Homo sapiens: one gene and its partner. The protein of the gene in region 2 interacts with the protein of the main gene of each other region in a pairwise test. Each region holds a gene or a part of one and is shown on either strand. Other genes may lie near its edges.

What was found. Proteins that work in one complex are often made in the same cells at the same time.
Region 1: the proteins of HAAO (region 2) and GAD1 interact in a two-hybrid assay, tested with the Homo sapiens proteins (4 studies listed by BioGRID and IntAct).

Annotation. Positions count from the first base shown.
Region 1 is NC_000002.12:170,854,870-170,861,661, forward strand, and holds the end of GAD1 (glutamate decarboxylase 1), read left to right. Parts: intron 1-2,148; coding exon 2,149-2,256; intron 2,257-3,934; coding exon 3,935-4,024; intron 4,025-4,839; coding exon 4,840-5,013; 3' UTR 5,014-6,282; downstream 6,283-6,792.
Region 2 is NC_000002.12:42,789,573-42,796,665, forward strand, and holds the start of HAAO (3-hydroxyanthranilate 3,4-dioxygenase), read right to left. Parts: upstream 3,012-7,093; 5' UTR 2,965-3,011; coding exon 2,885-2,964; intron 1-2,884. UniProt on the Homo sapiens protein: Catalyzes the oxidative ring opening of 3-hydroxyanthranilate to 2-amino-3-carboxymuconate semialdehyde, which spontaneously cyclizes to quinolinate.

The sequences.
Region 1 (6,792 bases), about 130 Mb from region 2:
TTCATCAACCTTTTGGGTTTCATTTCTGTACCTAAGGAAAAAAGCTAACTATTGGAATTTCCCCCAAAATATGAGTGAGGGAGAGGATTACCATTTGATTATTTGTTTCAAAAATATTTGTATGCAATCAAGGAAAAGAAATTTTGATTTCATAGTTTTATATTACATACCTTGTTTTTGTTATAAATTAATTTTAATAATTTCTATGTTTAAGATTGAGTCTAACTGTCTAACTAACACTCAAACAACAAGATTTTCTGGCAAAATTTCTAGTCAAATATTTCTTCTGTAGGAAAAATTTGGTAGATTATTAGTTTTTTCCTCAGTAAGTCATTTTGTCTTTTTTTTTTTTTTTTTTGAGACAGTTTCATTCCTGTTGCCCAGGCTGGAGTTCAGAGGCGCGATCTCTGCTCCCTGCAACCTCCGTCTCCCAGATTCAAGCAGTTCTCCTGCCTCAGCCTTCCAAGTAGCTGAGATTACAGGCATGCGCCACCATGCCCATCTAATTTTATATTTTTACTAGAGGCGGGGCTTCACCATGTTGGCCAGGCTAGACTTGAACTCCTGACCCCAAGTGATCCACCCACCTTGGCCTCCCAAAGTGCTGGGATTACAGGCGTGAGCCACCGCACCCAGCTCTATTTTGACTTAATATAGAAATAGTCTGAATTTGATTTCTATTACAAAGTAATCATAGGAATTTTAAACATATAAATAGCCATAGGCTGGGCACGGTGGCTCACGCATGTAATCCCAGCACTTTAGGAGGCCAAGGCAGGCGGATCATTTGAGCTCAGGAGTTCGAGACCCATCTGGGCAACAAAGTAAGACCCCATCTCTACAAAAAATACAAGTTAGTCAGGTGTGATGACGCATGCCTGTGGTCCCAGCTACTTAGGAGGCTGAGGTGGGAGGATCACTTGAGCCCAGGAGGCGGAGGTTGCAGTAAGCCGAGATCATGCCACTGCACTCCAGCCTGGGCAACAGAGTGAGACTCCATCTCAAAAAAAAAAAAAAAAAAAAAAAGCCATAAACGGCAACAACAAAAAAGGAGTCGTGTCATTTTGAAATATAATGACCACACAACCTGTTTCAGTAATTTGTGTCTTCTTTTTTGTTTCTAACAATAACCTCTTGAACCATCTGCTGCAGGTTTTGACCATAGTGATTGGTTGCTGAAATGGGACCCTGGTACAGGCTTCATTCCTAAGTGGACTGACTAGGGTGTACAGTCAGCAGTGACACTACCTGGGGAGGCTGATGCTTTCTCAGTGCTGGACTTTGCTCAGGCCCATTAGCAATCCACAGCCAGCCTTGTGCATCTGCTCTCCTTGTTAACACCGACCCACTCAACAACCCTCATACTGCTGTTATTAATCAGCCATGCTGGCTTTTGAAACTCATGCTCAACCAGTTTGTCAATAGTTGGAACTATTGCAATATCAGGGCATATACTGAGACCAATGGCTTCCCCATCTACCTGCCTGCCTGTCACCTAAAAGGCATAACACTGTTATGTGGAAGGTTGCCTGCCTGAGAGGGCATGGGACATGTTTCACAAGGACTTACTGCTGGGGAAGATGAGTTCTACAGCAGTATCTTTCGAAGTTTTTCTGATGAAGAACCAGTTATTTGTTGTTGTTGTTGTTGTTTTTCACCTATCATGGACCAATACCCTAAAGATTAATTGTTAGAAAAATGAAATTTAAAAACATACAAAGAACAAGCCACTGTTTTTTATTAGAGTCAACAGACAAAATCCCTTTGTCCAATTGCCATTAAAGTTTCCTATGCTTAATCTCAATTTCTACACTCATTTGATTGTAGACCAGTTACAGTTGTGGAGTGGCCTCAGTTCATAGATGACACTTTGAGTAGCACCATCCTAAAGCAAACCAGAATCAGGCATAGGTCCAGTTGAGAATAACTACCCAGAGACTGGAGTGCCTTTGAAAGAGGAAGCAGGCACACATCATTTATTGCATGCACATCTGTGAAAAAGCTGACATATTTGATTAGATTGTTCTTCCTAACCAGCTCCAAAAATACTTTTTTTGTTTATTTCCCATAGACAGGGACAGCATAGCCTTCCCAAATGCTCATCACAGGGAAATGCAACCACAAACATGACTTTTCTCTTTAAAACAGGGCACAGTGGGATTTGAAAACCAGATCAACAAATGCCTGGAACTGGCTGAATACCTCTATGCCAAGATTAAAAACAGAGAAGAATTTGAGATGGTTTTCAATGGCGAGGTAGGTAATCATCATGGACCAGGTACACAGTATTTCCAGAAAAACTGCTGAGGGAAGCTCCTGAAGCTTCTGGCAACATGGGAAAATCAATCCCATGTTGCCAGAAACTGCTTCAAAATTTTTATTCTTATACACTCTTAATTCCTCTCTTTAATTCCTTCCATGTCTATGAACTTTTCTTCTGGTAGCACTGGGATGACTTTTTCCTTTACATCTTTTAAAACTGTGTTGCTCTTGGCCAGCTTTTGGCAGACAAGAGGTCTTTCCTTGACAGGTCTGAATCCTTCATCATTCTTGGGTTTGTTTTGTGTTGAACCTTTATGAAAAAGTGTTTTTCAGGCTGGGCATGGTGGCTCACACCTGTAATCCCAGCATTTCGGGAGGCCAAGGCAGGAAGATTGCTTGAGTCCAGGAGCTCAAGACCAGCCTGGGCAACATAGCAAGACCCTGTCTCTATAAGAAAAAATATATATAATTTATGAAAAGAAATTTTACAAAACGATAAAGTGGTTTTCATTTCCAGGAAGCTTATAGGATGGGTATATTCTTACCTCCCAAGACTTGTTCTAAAATAAGGTTCTACTTAACATAGACTCATAAGGAAGAGAGCAAGATAAAATTGTCTCTGCCCTCAGTTCATGTGCATACTGCACACAGCAAAGTATTTGTCAGTGTTTACTGAGTACCCACTGTGTGCCAGGCCTCCTGCTAGGACCTAGATTCTAGAGTATTGAACAAAACAGATACATTCTCTGACCCAATGGAGCTTACACTTGAATAAAGAAAGATAGAATAGGAGCCAGTGTTGAATAAAAGAAAATCCACTTATAAGCCAGTATAATATAACACTGCTTACAGTCAACATTATTCTATTTATCAGGCAACCTAAACTACTAGGAACACATGTGAATCACCAAATGAACAAAAAAGAGCCCTGGGCAGTTTAAAATCAGTGACACTGCTCTGATCATTTACACACTACTTTAAACACTCTTAATAGCAGATTAAAAACAACAAATGTGATATCTCAAACCAATTAGAGGCAGGCACAGTAATGGCAAACAGCAACCAGCGAGAAAACTTTATAGCAAGAATAGGGAAGAACTCAAAAAGCACAGGAATCTTTAGAGGAGGGACACTAAACAGTTTGAGGCATCTCAACAGGCCTTGCCTTATGCTGTAGAAACAGTCTTTTGGTTTTTTTTAGGAGCAACCCTATTAATTGATATATCCAGTCTTAATGTTTGTTATGATAGTCCTGAGTCATCAAGAAAAGATTCAATATCAATATAATAAACTCAATAAAATATTCATCAGCATCCATAAACTATGTTTCAATTATCTTCTATATGTGAGGCACTACAAAATGACAACATGGACAGACGGATACCTTTTTTAAAAAATTGCCCAAATGTAATTATTTGTAACATTTCAATGTTTAAAGTCGGTAACTTTAGTTACCTAGAAAATTGGTTGTAGGGAACAGCTCTCTTGCCACATATGATTGGATAAATGAGGCATTGTTCTCCCTGGTGTGGAAGTAACATTGCCTTTGAGATGAACATTCAACCTCTTTCTTTGGTCCAAGAGACTTCCACCAAGGATGCATATTGGTTTGGGAACAGCTTTCTCTCAAGTTATCCTAATTTTCTTTGTTTGTCTTTTAAAATCTCTGCAGCCTGAGCACACAAACGTCTGTTTTTGGTATATTCCACAAAGCCTCAGGGGTGTGCCAGACAGCCCTCAACGACGGGAAAAGCTACACAAGGTATGGACTTGCTTTTTGTCTCATCTAATCCTCTGCAATTTCTCTGGCTGGTCAGGACATCCTCATTCCAATGTGCCTTTCTAGTGGGGGAAATATAAAAAATAAAGCCTTGGGGTGGGTTTCTAGTAATGGGGTGGTGGGGAGCCATCCTGTTATATTCCTCTTGAGCCTGCATCGCCCCCTTACTGTGGTTACCACGGGAACTTCTAAAGGATGCATCTTGTCTCCTTGTCCTTGGTTGATGTTCTTCATTAAAGGAGCCCTATGCAGGGTAAGGGAATAATGTGCATATTCCTAGGGACATTCTAGATTAAACTGTGTCTGTTACAATAACATTTTAAGTTCAGGCCCACTGTAATGCTGATTCATTCTAACTGTTTTCTATATCCAGTTTATATCTTATCCAGGGTTCTTAAGATTATATTTAATTTATATAACATTTCATTCATCCAACCATTCAACAAATATTTGTTAAACACAGTCTGTGTGCCAGGCAGTATCCTGGGCTCTGGGTTATACAAAACCCTGAATTTGTGGTGTTGTCTATAAGAGTTTTTTGGTTTTGTCTTCATTTTTTATTTTACTATCATTGTTCCATGACTGACTTTCAAAATTCGGTTGCACAGTACTTTCTGAGGGAACTTGTGACCAGGTAGTCATTTGATATTAGCCCCTGAAGATTCCTGGATATGAAATATTTCTTTGCTTTTATGTCAATGTAAACACAAATAGTAAAATGCAAGTTGGGTTGAATTGTTAAAAAGAGAGGGTGTTCATATCAATCTTGAGTTTTGTTTTGTGTTTTCCATCACAAGGTGGCTCCAAAAATCAAAGCCCTGATGATGGAGTCAGGTACGACCATGGTTGGCTACCAGCCCCAAGGGGACAAGGCCAACTTCTTCCGGATGGTCATCTCCAACCCAGCCGCTACCCAGTCTGACATTGACTTCCTCATTGAGGAGATAGAAAGACTGGGCCAGGATCTGTAATCATCCTTCGCAGAACATGAGTTTATGGGAATGCCTTTTCCCTCTGGCACTCCAGAACAAACCTCTATATGTTGCTGAAACACACAGGCCATTTCATTGAGGGAAAACATAATATCTTGAAGAATATTGTTAAAACCTTACTTAAAGCTTGTTTGTTCTAGTTAGCAGGAAATAGTGTTCTTTTTAAAAAGTTGCACATTAGGAACAGAGTATATATGTACAGTTATACATACCTCTCTCTATATATACATGTATAGTGAGTGTGGCTTAGTAATAGATCACGGCATGTTTCCCGCTCCAAGAGAATTCACTTTACCTTCAGCAGTTACCGAGGAGCTAAACATGCTGCCAACCAGCTTGTCCAACAACTCCAGGAAAACTGTTTTTCAAAACGCCATGTCCTAGGGGCCGAGGGAAATGCTGTTGGTGAGAATCGACCTCACTGTCAGCGTTTCTCCACCTGAAGTGATGATGGATGAGAAAAAACACCACCAAATGACAAGTCACACCCTCCCCATTAGTATCCTGTTAGGGGAAAATAGTAGCAGAGTCATTGTTACAGGTGTACTATGGCTGTATTTTTAGAGATTAATTTGTGTAGATTGTGTAAATTCCTGTTGTCTGACCTTGGTGGTGGGAGGGGGAGACTATGTGTCATGATTTCAATGATTGTTTAATTGTAGGTCAATGAAATATTTGCTTATTTATATTCAGAGATGTACCATGTTAAAGAGGCGTCTTGTATTTTCTTCCCATTTGTAATGTATCTTATTTATATATGAAGTAAGTTCTGAAAACTGTTTATGGTATTTTCGTGCATTTGTGAGCCAAAGAGAAAAGATTAAAATTAGTGAGATTTGTATTTATATTAGAGTGCCCTTAAAATAATGATTTAAGCATTTTACTGTCTGTAAGAGAATTCTAAGATTGTACATAAAGTCATATATATGGAAATCCTGTTACTTAAATAGCATCTGCTCTTCTCTTACGCTCTCTGTCTGGCTGTACGTCTGGTGTTCTCAATGCTTTTCTAGCAACTGTTGGATAATAACTAGATCTCCTGTAATTTTGTAGTAGTTGATGACCAATCTCTGTGACTCGCTTAGCTGAAACCTAAGGCAACATTTCCGAAGACCTTCTGAAGATCTCAGATAAAGTGACCAGGCTCACAACTGTTTTTGAAGAAGGGAAATTCACACTGTGCGTTTTAGAGTATGCAAGAAGAATATAAATAAATAAAAATATTCTCCATGGAGAATTTGAACAAAATTTTCTTCTAGTTTGTGTTTCATACAGAGATGTTTCTAATTAGAGTTCCTTGGGTTGCCCATAGCCCATTTGCTTTCTATTGGCTGACTTTAGGTGATGCTCAGTACCCTGATTAAGCTGAAGGAGACTCGATCCACTGTCACAGGCTCTGAAGCTCCTCATCTATAAAATCATTATGGGCTGGGCATGGTGGTGCATGCCTGTAATCCTAGCACTTTGGGAGGCTGAGGCAGGCAGATCACTTGAGCTCAGGAGTTCGAGACCCATCTGTGCAACAGGGCGAAACCCTGTCTCTGCAAGAAATGTAAAAATTAGCCAGCTGTGGTGATGCGCACCTGTGGTCCCAACTATTTGGGAACCTGAGGTGCAAGGATCACCTGAGCCCAGGAGATCAAGGCTGCAGTGAGCTGAAATCGTGCCACTGCACTCCAGCCTGGGTGACAGAGTGAGACCCTGTCTCAATCAATCAATAAAATCATTATGATTATAATTAATTAAATGTGCAGTTCA
Region 2 (7,093 bases):
AAATAAATAAATAAATAAACTCAATACAACCCTCTCATTTTACAGCCGATTTAGCCAGCCAAGAGAGGGTCACAAAGCCAGGGAATGACTGAACCTGAGCCAGGTCTCAGGCTCCTTGACTCCCACGCTGGCGTTGGGTCTGTGGGGCATCTAGTCAGCTGTTTGGAACAAAAGGGTTCCCAAACTCCTCAGTCTTTCTGCTGTTGGTGTGGTGTTACCTTTTTATGCAAAAAATACCTCAGCACCTCCTGAGAACAGCCTGCCCCATCCCCACAGCAGGGTCCCCTTTCAGGGTGCAGACACTGGGGTGAATAAGCAGCAGAATGTGTCTGTGTAGGGCTTCAGGGTGTTCTCAGGTGGCCCTGCCACAGAGGGCAGGGGCAAGGGCTTTCCTCTGGGAAGGGGAGGCGCTGGGTCTGGGACCATTTGTACACACAGGGCACAGCAGCCTAGAGGCTGCCTGCATGGATGACGATGGTGTGGATGGCAGGGGAGGGGCTATGGGGGAGGTCTGAGCCCCCAAACTAGACTGGCAGGTCCTTTCTGAGTGTCCTGTCCTGTGGGCTGCTTTCCAGCCCAGCTGGGAGGCATGGAGGCAAGACGGAAGAGCCAGTCTCTTTCCTTTTCCTTCCCTTTTGGGAGGCTGGGCCCAATAAACCGGAAACACACGTGTGGACCTGATGTTTGGAAAGGTGGATGAGGTTGCAGGGCAGGAGAAGGCTGTCATGAACAGTCCATGCTTAAAGAACTTAAAGCTGCATAGAGCTTCAAGGAGGGGAGGGAAGCCGCAAGGAACTTGACTGGGGAAGAGTGTGCACAGGAGAGCTGGGTGCAGAGGCTCTGAGATTAGAAGCACTGGGGGTGAGCTTGGGGAACGATTGAGAAGGCTGGTCCAGGAGGGTGGACCAGCCATGGAGTCTGGTCTTGGCCTAAGGGGTGCTGGGGAACCTGGAAAGTTTGTTTTTTTTTTTTTTTTTTCAGATAGAGTCTTGCTTGCCACCCAGGCTGGAATGCAGTGGCACAACTTCGGCTCAGTGCAGCCTCCACCTCCCGGGTTCAAGCAATTCTCCTGCCTCGGCCTCCTGAGTAGCTGGGACTACAGGCGCGTGCCACCACGCCCAGGTAATTTTTGTATTTTTAGCAGAGACGGGGTTTCACCATGTTGGCCAGTCTGGTCTTGAACTCCTGACCCCAAATGATCCACCCACCTCAGCCTCCCAAAGTGCTGGGATTACAGGCATGAGCCACTGCGCCCGGCTTGAAAGTTGTTTTTTAAAATCAACTTCACTGAGATGTAATTTAGGTACATACAGACAATTCTTAAACAACTCCACTCAAGAATTCTTTCAACCCATCAGTCAGAATGCATAAACCAGACCTGCCCCTCCTCTGCCCAGAACTCTTCAGCAGCTTCTCACCTTGCTTGCTTCAGCAGCTTCTCACCTTGCTGAATAGTAACCCCTCCTGTAAAATTTATATGTTGAAGTCCTAACGCCCAGTACTGCAGAATGTGACCTTATTTGGAATAGGGTCCTTGAGATGTAGTTAGGTTAGGATGAGGTCATCCTGGAGTAGGGTGAGCCCCTGATCCAATATGTCTGGTGTTCTTTTAAAAGAGGGAAATTTGGACACAGACACACACACAAGGAGACTGCCTTGTGAAGACGAAGGTGGAGGTGGGCGTGGTACAGCAGAAGCAAGAATACCAATGATGCCAGCAAACCACCAAATGCTAGGGAGAGGCCCGGGCAGATGGACGCGAGACCTCAGGGGGAGCGAAGGGAGGACTGAGAAGGAGCGACTGCAGATGGGGATGAAGTGTTGGAAGGAGGCAAAGATGATGCTACATCTTTAATTGGGGGTGGGCAACAACAGTGATAGAAGAGATCTTTGGGGAGATATTGACTGTTGGCCATGTGGTATTGCATGGTAACCAAGAGTGTGCGTGGACTCTGGAGTCGAACTGCTCCGTGGGTTGAGTCTGGAGCCTATCGCACAGGCGCTCCGTGACACTAGAAAAGTTACTTATGAAAATCCCCCCTCACGGTGCTACTGTGAGAATGAGATGAGATGATGTAAAAACACTTGGCATAGTCCTGGGCCTGCTGTTTGCCTTGAGGTGCCACCCTACTGACCATGTCCTGTGGACACAGCAAAAATGGGGAATGTAAACCTTGATCTAGCTGGCATGTGGGGCCCCGCCATGGAACTGGGGGGATGAGGGAGGTGACCATACCACAGGGGAGGGCCTGAGAGGTCTGCCTGAGAAAGATGGCAGCTGGATGGCCAACCCTGTTGGGTGCTGCAGGCAGAGGCTACTGGCAGAGGTGGCCTAGGGAGGGTCTGGTGTGGTGTGTGTGTGTGTGTGTTCGTGCACACCTGCATAGAGGGGCCCTGAAAAAAGCAAGACATCAAGATCTTCCCAAAGGAGCGGATTCTCTGCCTCCCCCTTTGCCTGTGGCTTCTGGGACAGGGTTGGGGTGTATGATTTGGCTGCCCCCAGGCCTACATTCTAGTGCATTTCTGCCTTGAAAACCACCCTCCCCACACTTTTGAGTTTTCCCAAAATGCACAGTGTCACTTGGGGTTGGAGAATTGTTTCTCAGCCCTGGAAGGAGAGGTGCACCCTGTCATGTCATCTCCTACAGCCTGAGAACCAGCTCAGCCTTCTTCAGAAGTCAAGGCCACAGTCACAAGAAAGAGGAACAGACCGATGTGGTGGAACCGGAACAGCCTGTCTCCATCTTCCCCCAAGAACCAAGAGATTAAAGCGGTCCTTCTGCAAGCTTCTGGGTCCAGGAACTCGGAGCTGGAAGGTGAGGGCGCAGATGGAGGAGGGGGAGGAGGCGAGGGCAGGGGGCGGCCATGGGGGTGCTGGACTCACATGAGCTTGTTGCAGACCGGGGGCTGGAAGGAGCCCCGGTTCTCCTTCACCCAGGCCCTCACTCCCAGGCGGCGCTCCATGACTGTCCCGGGCGCCTCCTCGCAGCGCTGTCCTCCCGCCGTCGGAGGCCCGCAGCTCCGCCCAGCCGCCTTTTTAACCAGAATCCCAAGCTCACGAGGCGGAGCAAACCCCCGCGACCCCGTGGTGGGGGCTTGGGGCCCGCGGACTTTGCCCCCTGGTGGACTTTGGTCTGAGCCCGCCGCCCTCCGCGCCACTCCAGGCCCTGGCGAGCGCGGCGGCGGCAGCGCTGGGGAACGGCGTCCCGCGCCCTCTGCTTCTCCGCGGGGCAGGGGCTCGGTCCCCGCCACCGTCTCCGGGGCGCCCCACACACTGGCGCCTGCGGTGGGGCCTGCTCCCGGCGGAGGACAAAGAATCCAGACCCTTCCTGGACGCTTGTCCCCAGACGTTCCTTCCCTCTACGCCCCGAGGGGAATCCCAGGGAAGGTTCCCAGAAATACTACAGTGAGGAGATCGCGGGTTGGAAGTCCCAGCACCTGAGAACACGGTGCTGGCGCTGGGCTCAAGATTTGGCTTTCCCATCTGGAAAAGGGGAATGACTGCCCCGCCACTCAGGGCTGCGGCGCTCACCCAGCGGGAAGCCGCACGGCGGTCCCCGCAGGTCCCGATTCAAGGTGAGCCCCAGACCTGCTGCGTGCGGCCGGCAGACTCCGCCGCGGGCTCGGCGAGGGGAGCGGTGCAGGCGCCGAGCTGCGGAGCCCGGGCTCAGGGCAGGACCGCGAGCCCTCCCCACCTGAGGCCCAGCCGAGCGGCCGCTGTCCGCGCAGTGTCGCAGTGGACCCCGAGCCCCGTGCTGAACTCCTTAGGCGTCTTAGGAACATACTCAGTTCGCACGCAGCTATGGGAGGAATTTGGCAGATGTGGACACCGGCCTCAGTGTCCTAGCCCTCGGGAATCTCGGGGTGTTAATGATGACAGCCCCGTGTGAGAGACTCTAACAGTTATCCTGGGGGTGAGGGGCTGGGGCGCTGGGCCTGGGCGTGCATGTGTGAGGAAAGAGAAATCTGCGCGGGTGTGGAAGATGGAGAAGCCTGTCTTTCTGCAGGACTCAGAACTTTCTTAGGAAGTTTGGAGGGAGTGGGAGCTGACGGGTAGGGGAGGAGGAAAATGGCTCAGGCCCCTGACACCGGAATCCAGACTATAGAGTTTAAGAAACTAAACGCCTCTAAATCCTGCCCTCACAGCCCGCCTGGCCTGGGCTGGTTTTCTCAGCATTCCAGACATAAAGACTCCTCTAGTACAACTCAAAATCAAAACCCAGACGACAGGAAGCCGAATTCCCCACTGAGACCCTCCCGTTTCCTCTCTGACGCTCTTTTTTTTTTTTTCATTTTTCTCTCTCCTTTTTTTTAGTTATTTATCTAGCACAGTTTTAGCTGAGCACTTCTAGTGCAAAACTAGAATATCGTTTTGCACCCAAGTAACTCACACCACCTTCTTTATTTTTCTCATCTACAAGTAATCAGAGGAGACGTAAACAATGACACATGAAGCACTGAGGATCTGAGATGTGTTAAGTTTGCTTTGAGTGTTAGTTAAATGGAGGGATGGGTGAGTGGGTGGATGAAGGCATCAATGAATTCACACAAAAAGGAGAAAAAATTGATTTCAGCCCAACAGATGTTCCGTTACCATAGTGCAAAGGAAAGAATGATAGGTACTCTGTATTTTAACTGATGTGATCAAATAATGTGAATAATTAAGGCCACAAGTAGAATTTTGGGGGTCTGAAATATCCCGAGTAACCCTCTACACAAGCTAAATGACTGCTATGTTATCACTATCAAATATGCCCTCTGATTTGTGCTGTGTAGAGCAAATACCACGTCTGGTCTACTGAATTGGCAAGCCTCCTGGCTCAGGCACCACTGGACTCCAATGTTCAGAAAACGGACAGTTGCTATGTTGTGAGTATTCTGGCATTGTTGAGTTGGAACCATCTGGAATCCTTCTGGATACTGACTGTTGGGCCCCTTGTAGTTTCTGGAATTTACCCGCTTCTAGGAGCCACCTCTCTCCTCTGCACACAGGAGCTCATCTGCACTAAAGGATTAGAAGCAAATAGAATCTACCCCACGATCCAAGCTCAAAGGATCTGGCCTGCTTGCTGGTGTCTTCCCCTGGCCTCCGCTGGGTGGTGTTTGCCTGCCCAGGTCACTGAGACCAGCAGATCCTTCTAGGCTTTGCTGAACCTGGCTGGTAATAACTATCTGACCCTTCAATTCTTCCATACACTGAACTCGTTGCTCCAGTGAATCCCTTTCCCAGCCCACCTTGTTTTGTCTCTGCCTTTCTGTCTCTCCCACTTTCTCACCCTTTCATGTAATTCAGCAACTATTTTAAAACAAATAGCTTTATATGAACAAAAGGACTAGATCATGAACTACACTGGTTATTTGGAAGTCTAGGTTCTGGTCCTGCTACCCCTTTAACTTGAGTTATTTACAAGTCTGTTTAAAAGTTTCTAGACATACACTGGTTTGTTTTTTGTTTGGCTATCGTTTTGTTTTTCATTTCTAATTGTATTGCATTGTGGTGAGAGAAGATGGTCCGTGTTGTATTATTTTTGGGTGGGGAGATGTGTTAAGATTTCCTTTGCAGTTTAGCTTATGGTCAATTTTTGTGAATGTGTATACTCTGCTTAGAACGTAGTTCAGAATATTTCTATTAGGTCATGCTATTGTGTTAGTCAAATAGTCTTGATCTTTATTTTTTAAAGTGCTTAATATTTTATTTTCCAAGAGAGATATGTTAAAATCTAACACTGTGATTTTTGGGGTCAATTTTTCCTTTTTTTTTTTTTTTTTTTTTTTGAGACCGGTTCTCACTCTGTGCCTAGGCTGGAGTGCAGTGGTGCGATCTTAGCCTCAATCTCTCCGGGCTCATGTGATCCTCCTGCCTGTCCTCACTGTAGCTGGGACTACAGGCTCACACCACCACGCCTGGCTTTTTGTATTTTTTTTGTAGAGATGGGGTTTCCCCATGTTGTCCAGGCTGGTCTTGAACTCCTGGGCTCACAAAGTGCTGTAATCACAAAGTGCTGGGATTACAGCTGCGAGCCAGTGTGCCCAGCCTCTCCTTATTCTTTAACAGCTTTTGCTTTACATATTCTGAATGTATGTCATTAGACGAAAACATGCTCATGACTATTTTATCTTCTTCTTGTAGTGTTTCTTTTATCTCTAAGAAATATTTCCTCTTAGTTTCTTTTCACCTTGACTTCAACTTTGATATTAATATTCCTACACCCACTTTGTGCTAGTGTTTTCCAGATATGGTAAGTTGATCAAAAAGATGACACAATAACTCCTTCCCTTCCTGAATCCATACGCCTTGTGACTTTGCCTCTGTTCTAATAAGAGGTGAAGTCCATTTCCTTATTCGTTGAATCATGTTTGGCATTGTGACTTGTGAATACAGAAGGCAGCAGAACTAATGCTATGGGACATCTGAGTCTAGTCCTCACCAGGTCTCCCAGCTGCTGATCTCATCACCTGGAACGCTGCTCCCACCATGTGTAGAAGCCTGGGTTAGTGTCCTGGAGGATGAGAGACAATGTGGAGGGTGAGGCTGGCCAACAGCCTGCACCAGCTGTGTAAGACCATCTGAGATGACTGTAGCTGCATGAGTGAACCCAGGGGAGACATGCAGAGACTTGCCCAGCTGTCTTACTTGTTACTTTAAGCCATTCAGTTTTTTCTAAGATAAAAAAGGTTAGTTTATCTAGGCAGAAATAGTATGTAAATAATTATACAAGTAGTACATGGATATGACGAAAACCTTGAAGCTGATGTGCAAAGAGCTGAAATTTGGAAAATACTTAATGAGAGAATGGCCTAAAGAGCTATTCGGTACTCTGAATTCCCCAAAGGCAAGGACCAATATTTATCCACCTCCGATATCTCCTCCGGAACCTTACACAGTACTTGGAACACAGTGGACTCTCTACAAATACCAAATTGGGAATTAACTCTTATTATAAACACTGAGTGTCAGCCCTGGTTCTTCCGGGCTCCAAAACTAACATATGAGTAGATTTCTCCAGGTAGACAAGAGTGAGGTAAACCCCCAAGAATCAGGAACTAGAGCCAAGTAAAGAATAAGCCCCGAGAAGCTTTGAGTAAAAAAGGA